2 linked regions of the Homo sapiens genome follow. The protein of the gene in region 1 purifies or fractionates together with the protein of each later gene. This does not show direct contact. Each region holds a gene or a part of one and is shown on either strand. Other genes may lie near its edges.

Region 1 (3,829 bases):
TGTCTGTATCAAGCACTAAGCATGAGTTCATACGGATGTCATTGGCTCTAATCCAGTACCACATGGTTCATTCTAGTCTTTTCCTCTTGCTTGTTTGTAATCTCCCTGTTTAATAATAAGAAACCTGGCTTCCACCATCTTCTGTCAATTTACTTGTTGCTCATCTCCAGTAGACATGTAAAGCAGTTTCAGAATTGTTAATCTGTAACTCGTGAGAGACAGTTTTACTCACTAGAGTACAGTGTTTATGTATAGTCCTTTGTCTTTAGTTTTACAGTTTTTAGTCAAAATACCATTTTCCAAAGATAGATCAGTTCTTTTCCCCCAACCCTTCATTGAGGTTGTGCCACACATTTGTAGCACAGTCAGATTATTTTGTCACAGTCCCCATTCCATCTTGTGCATCCCTTGCCCTTTTGGCTGATTTGTAAAATTTGTATGCACTAAGGTTCACTCTGTGCTGTAAAGTTTTATGAGTTTTGACAAATGCAGAATGTCATGTATCCACCACGATAGTACCATACAGATTAACTCCATCACCCTGAAAGCCCCTCTGCTCACAATCTTTTGAGAGTTCCCAGGTAATCTCTTTCAGGTTGATATCTCAGGTTGATCTTTTGTGGGAAAAAAAATATGAGCTATGAGTCTTTCATTTCAGGTGACGGTTCTCAGTCCCGGCTGCACACGGGAACTATCTGGAAGCCTTTAGAAATTATGGATGCCTGATTTTACCTCCAGATCCTGACTTAATTGATCCCACTTGGTTTAGTTGGTCTGGGAGGTATATCTGGTTACTAGACCTTTGAAAATCTCCCCAGATGCTCATGATGTGCAGCAAAGGTTTAGAACCAGTCTGGACTCCTCTATTTCTTGTTTGCTGCCTTTTGATAAAAACACAAATAATTAATTGCTGTATTTACATCACTTTGGGGGATATGATGAATCAGTATGTAAGTTTTGTAAATAAGTAATGTGGCAAGGATGAATTTCACACACTAATCTTGTGCAAAAACACATCTATTTTTAAACTCTAATTGAACTCAAAATGAACCTCAGTTTCTCTTGGTGACAGCAAATTTAATTTTGACAAGTCAAAGTTACTCAATTACTTCTAGTTTAAAACTCGGTTCTTTGGGAGAAAATAGTTGAATTCAGCTTTCCTCCTCCCCTTCTCCGTTCATCTTTTCCCTGGTATGACCTAGGCTTGGGTCCAGGTGATCTCAGGTGGCACCAGCATCAGGGAAGGCACATCTAGCCAGATGCATCTGGGGATCCCCAGACAGAGAATTATGGCCCTGCTTCCTGTGGAGAATGTTGGGAGGGAGCAGGTACTGCAGAGCATAAATGGTTTCAGAGCAGACCTCACAGAGAGCATGCCTAAGAGAGGCCACTTCCGTCTCCCTCAGCGGCCAAGGGGTGTGAAGAAAGTCTGCAAGGTTCTCACATCAGCTGGAGAGGGCCAGAGAAGGTAGCTGAAGATTGAGAGCAGGTGGCCTACCAGAGTCCAAAACCTTGGGCCAGGGGACCCCATAACACACACTTGGGAGTGAATATAAGCCAGTGGCTGAGTGGGGAAGGCCACTGGATCCCAGAGGATCAGTAGCACCTGAGAGTATGGCGATGATGGTTACGCCAGCCTGGAACATGGCCACATGCCCTTAGGGAACATCATGTGGCGCTGTCCAGGTTGATTGAACAGAAAACAAAGCAGAAAAGCACTCTCGGGTGCTGCTGATCCTCTGGGATCCAGTGAGTGGCCTTCCCCACCCAGCCACTGGCTTATGTTCACTCCCCAAGTGTCTGTTATGGGGTCCGCTGGCTCTAGGTTTTGGACTCATTGGTAGTCCCCCTGCTCTCAATCCGCAGTTACCTTCTGTGCCCCTCTCCAGCTGATGTGAGAACCTTGCAGACTTCCTCCACACCCCTTGGCTGTTGAGGGAGATGGAAGCGGCCTCTCTTAGGTGTGCTCTCTGCAAGGTCTGCCCTGAAACCATTTCTGCTGTGCTGTAGCTGCTCCCTCCCAGAATTCTCCGCAGGAAGCAAGGCCACAAGTCTTCTCTGTTTAGGGATTCCCAAACCCATCTGAGGCTTCCGTCATATCTTCTGGTGATTTAACCTCCCAAATAGGCCAAGGAGCCAAGCCCCATCTTTACATCTAAACTATCATTCGCCCCTCCCAGCTACTCCCCTCAGTAGAAAGAGGGCATGGAGGGAAAACTAAATCACATTATTAGTCCTTCCTCTCCTCTTCCTTGCATCATGAACTCCCTGTGTATTGCCCTCTAGCTTGGCTAATGACATGTAGTGCCAAGATTTTAGAATTAAAACATCAACAACAATGCCAACAACACTTTTCTCTGTCAAGAATATAACTCTCTTCAAATAATGGGCTTGGGTTTACAGACAGTTGCTTCTCCTGAGTATTTTCTAAAAATCAATTTAGAAATTCAGTTTCCTTCTCTGTTCTGAGCCATCTGCCTTCTGTTCAAAGCAGTGAAAGGCACTGAACAAAGTGGTGAAGAACTTGAGGCGAGAAAAATGTGGCAAAGAAAAATCTCTATAGATGTCTCAAAACAACACCCATCTACTATGATATTGTGGTATGATATGGAGCAAATAAATACTCCAAATAAATTTCAATTTGGAATGGATTTGGAAGGCAGATTTCCATGCAAGTAGAAATAAAGGCCAATAAGATGTATCTACATTTAAAGACCCATAGATCTTTCCACACATCCAATAGGAAAAGCTGGACATTTATTTGAGACTTGGCTAAAGCTCCAGACCACAGGCAGTCAAGACCTCAGGGTGTAAAAATGGAATATTGATATTTATTCTGTATTTATTCCAGGAAGATTTCACTGCCAAGGTGACAGTTGGTGAGAGCTGTCCAAAGGAACTTTAGTCAAAGTCTGTTGAGATTTTTTTGAAAAAACATGAATTAAAGCAATTGAAGAATGAATCCGCTGGAAAAACAGATTATTAACTATTTGTTCAGATTCCAAAGATGAGTAACTTTACTTTGTCTTTTGTTTTGTCCTTAGCTGGAAAGGCAGCTCATCATGCAGAGTGAAATGAGGGAAAGACAAATGGCCATGCAGATTGCGTGGTCTCGGGAATTCCTCAAATATTTTGGAACTTTTTTTGGCCTTGCAGCCATCTCTTTAACAGCTGGGTATGTTTGCTATTTAACATTTTCTTCAGTCATTTACTTCTTTTTGTGTTTTCCATTACCATTTTATTATGAAGTTGGCCAGAATAAGACTTTGGTCCAAATAGTGTATGTAACCAAAGTAACCTATTAACCTTAGTCCTTGGGGGTAACTCTGTGAAAGCAAGGCAGTAACAGTTAATTTAGTTTCCTAGGTTGCTTCTGTCTTTTTCTCTACTTTATTAGTTAGAGAGAGAGAGCACCAACTTGACACCAAGAAGGGCTCTATGTGTTTATCTCCACAATCCCTTAGTGGTAGATACCAATCCTTACTCATTTTAAAAACAAGGAACCTGAGCTTCAGAGTCAAATAAAGATGAGCAAGTCACAGACCTTGCCCTTGAGAACTGCAGAATCTGGTTAGGGGTATTGGGTAAGGAAATCCTATTTCCATAGAATTATCAAATGTGTTAAGTAACTTCTGAAGGAAAAGGCATTCTTCCAAAAAGCAGGTATTTTTTTTTCTTTAAGTATACAGATATGTATTTACAGGTTATTTTTTGATATTGGTTCTTCTTTTAATTCTTGAAACAGAGCGATTAAAAAAAAGAAGCCAGCCTTCCTGGTCCCGATTGTTCCATTAAGCTTTATCCTCACCTACCAGTATGACTTGGGCTA
Region 2 (2,888 bases), on another chromosome or scaffold:
TCAGGGGCTCCAACAGGGAGAAAAAACAATCACTGGTCTTGTCTATAAGTCACTCTGCTTTATCTTGCTAAAGACAATTTTTCAAGCAATCCTTTAGTTTTAGTTTTCTGGAATAGCTAGTATTGGGTTTTCTAGTTTTTTCACCTTTTAGTTTTTACTCTAATTTTGTAACCATGTATATGCTAGCAGTCCACTTCTACGCCACCACCCAAATGGGTCAGACCCTTGAAGAAACGTCACTTCAAACTCAGAATGAAATTTTCATTAATATTAAAATTGTGAAGCAAAGGTCAATAGGCTTATATTTAATTAAAGCCTTACTGAAGAATAAGAAATGAGCTTAGAATGACTAGTGTTCTTTGAAAGGTTTTTTTATTTTTGTTTTTTTGGGGTTTTTTTTTTTTTTGAGACCGAGTCTTGCTCTGTCGCCCAGGCTGGAATGCAGTGGTGCGATCTTGGCTCACTGCAATCTCTGCCTCTCGGGTTCAAGCTGTTCTACTGCCTCAGCCTCCTGAGTAGCTGGGATTACAGGTGTGTGCCACCACGCCTGGGTAATTTTTTTTTTTTTTGTATTTTTAGTAGAGATGAGTTTCACCATGTTGGTCAGTCTAGTCTCGAACTCCTGACCTTGTGATCCGCATGCCTCAGCCTCCCAAAGTGCTGGGATTACAGGCATGAGCCACCACGGCCCGCCAAAAGGCTTTAACCCATGAACAAATGTTGGATCCTGACATTTTGTTTAAGAGTGATTTGTTCAATAATTGAACTGAGTTAACATTCTTGGTAAACCAGGTAATTGAATGAAGAAAGGTCACTAAAGGGAGAAATGACATGTTTTCTATTTTCTTTTCATGAAAACACTGTTTTTCCCCCTAATAAAGCATATTTTACTTTGGTGCTTATTTTTCCTCCTTGCAGTCTAATAAAAAAATCTGGACAATCAAACCTTAAAATAGCTACACTCTGCCCTCTGTAATGTAGCATTCATAAAAATTTGGAAGTATTTACATCCTCTTTCAAGATGAGCTTATATGACACAATTATTATTTGCTGATACATGAAAATACTGCACTTTAAGTTTCTCAAGACTCTGAAATATGTAAAATTCAATATTTTTATATTCCCAGAAATTGTTTCTTACAGGTTGAAAGTCTTTTAAGGGCATCACAAATTAACATTTACTCCTAATGCACGCCTAGAATGTATTTTAAATACTTACTAAGAAGAATGAAAATTCTTTGGTTGTTTTATATATAAATAAGGCATATATAATGACACTGTGTTCTGTGAGGGAGCAGGCCCTGTGAGAATCAATTCAGGACAGTATTTTTTTTTGTCCTTTCTCCATCCTTGATCAGAGATAAACTATTAAAACTTTAAAAAATACTCAAAAATATGTAAGTTTTTTGGTTGAACCTTTAGATTTGCTCATAATGTTTAACATAACAACATTTATTTCAAATCACTGAATTCATGGAGATGTGGACACGCTTGGTTTGCTCTATTTTTGTTTATGTGTGATAGTGGTTCTGTCATCATCATTCATGTTTTTTAAGGCCTGGTCATAAAACTTTAAATTTTACTAGTGTTACTTAATGTATATTCTAAAAAGAGAATGCAGTAACTAATGCCCTAAATGTTTGATCTCTGTTTGTCATTACTTTTTCAAAATTATTTTTTTCTGTAAAGTATAATATATAAAACTTCTTGCTTAAATTGAATTTCTATATTAGTGGTTAATTGCAGTTTATTAAAGGGATCATTATCAGTAATTTCATAGCAACTGTTCTAGTGTTTTGTGTTTTTAAAACAGAATTAGGAATTTGAGATATCTGATTATATTTTTCATATGAATCACAGCTGTTGACAATGTCCCATATATTTAAGAAATTATATCATACTGATACTATTTGTAACATTTTGATTTGATTTAATCTCCAGGGACAGAAATAATTCATTGGTAAAGTGTAATAATGCGTTTTTTAAAAATGCTTTGAGAGGTAATTACTTGCATATGAGAGAAATAAAACATTTGGCACATTGTTTACAGGTGTGAAAACTTTGTGGGTTTGTGTTATTCAAGTAACATTTGCTTTACTTTTTGTCTTTCCCTTTTCCTCTTCCAATCCCAAAATAGTGAGAAGTTATATTGATAGTTATGGAGGACTTTACAAGATACTAGTCAGAAAAGCTTTTTCTCAGGGGTACTGAGCCCCTTTATCACACTAGAGATCTGTGGCAGAGACCTCCAATACTGGGGGATTACAGAGAATGCGGTTGACCTAGGGGCCCAGCTGCACTTTGAAATCCATTGCTGTATTTGCATTGAGCCCATGCCTTCCGTGGTTTCTCTCAGCGACTGGCTGAGTATGAAGTTATACTAAGACATACTTAGTCTGGAAATTCTAGGAGACACAGAACTCCTCTGACAGCCGACTTTGGCTTGAAGACTCTTCAGTGGCCTTGCAGAACCTTTCTTAGACTGCATGGCAGTCTGGGATGTTCTACCATACCGCTGTCTTTCTCTTCTCCTCCCTCTTCCACATGGGGCTCAGACTACCAGTTTGGAAGGCTCACCCAGTGCTGGATTATCTGGTAGGAAGAATAAGTTCATGCTGAGGGCTGTAGCAAAGCAGGGGCATTAAAAAAGGAAAAAAAAAAAAAAGGAAGAAGACTGTACCCAAGCTTCGTAAGAAAAATGCCATCCAGGGTGGACTTACTTCCATGTGTTTTATGATTTAGTATTGTTTTTATTTTGAATTATGCATGAAGGAGGACACTATCATCTTTTTGGTGCTTTGAGTTTCTAAGTATGTTGATCTGGTGCTGCCTGGATATCTGTTTTTAACGAAGTTCTGTGTGTGTTTCTAATGTACAGCCAGGACTAA

The links.
Region 2: the proteins of PLGRKT (region 1) and VPS13C purify together in Homo sapiens (affinity purification with mass spectrometry; one large-scale study listed by BioGRID and IntAct). This does not show direct contact.

What each region holds. Positions count from the first base shown.
Region 1 is NC_000009.12:5,361,104-5,364,932, reverse strand, and holds part of PLGRKT (plasminogen receptor (KT)), read left to right. Parts: intron 1-3,044; coding exon 3,045-3,175; intron 3,176-3,745; coding exon 3,746-3,829. UniProt on the Homo sapiens protein: Receptor for plasminogen. Regulates urokinase plasminogen activator-dependent and stimulates tissue-type plasminogen activator-dependent cell surface plasminogen activation.
Region 2 is NC_000015.10:61,851,560-61,854,447, reverse strand, and holds the end of VPS13C (intermembrane lipid transfer protein VPS13C), read left to right. Parts: 3' UTR 1-2,059; downstream 2,060-2,888. UniProt on the Homo sapiens protein: Mediates the transfer of lipids between membranes at organelle contact sites. Necessary for proper mitochondrial function and maintenance of mitochondrial transmembrane potential.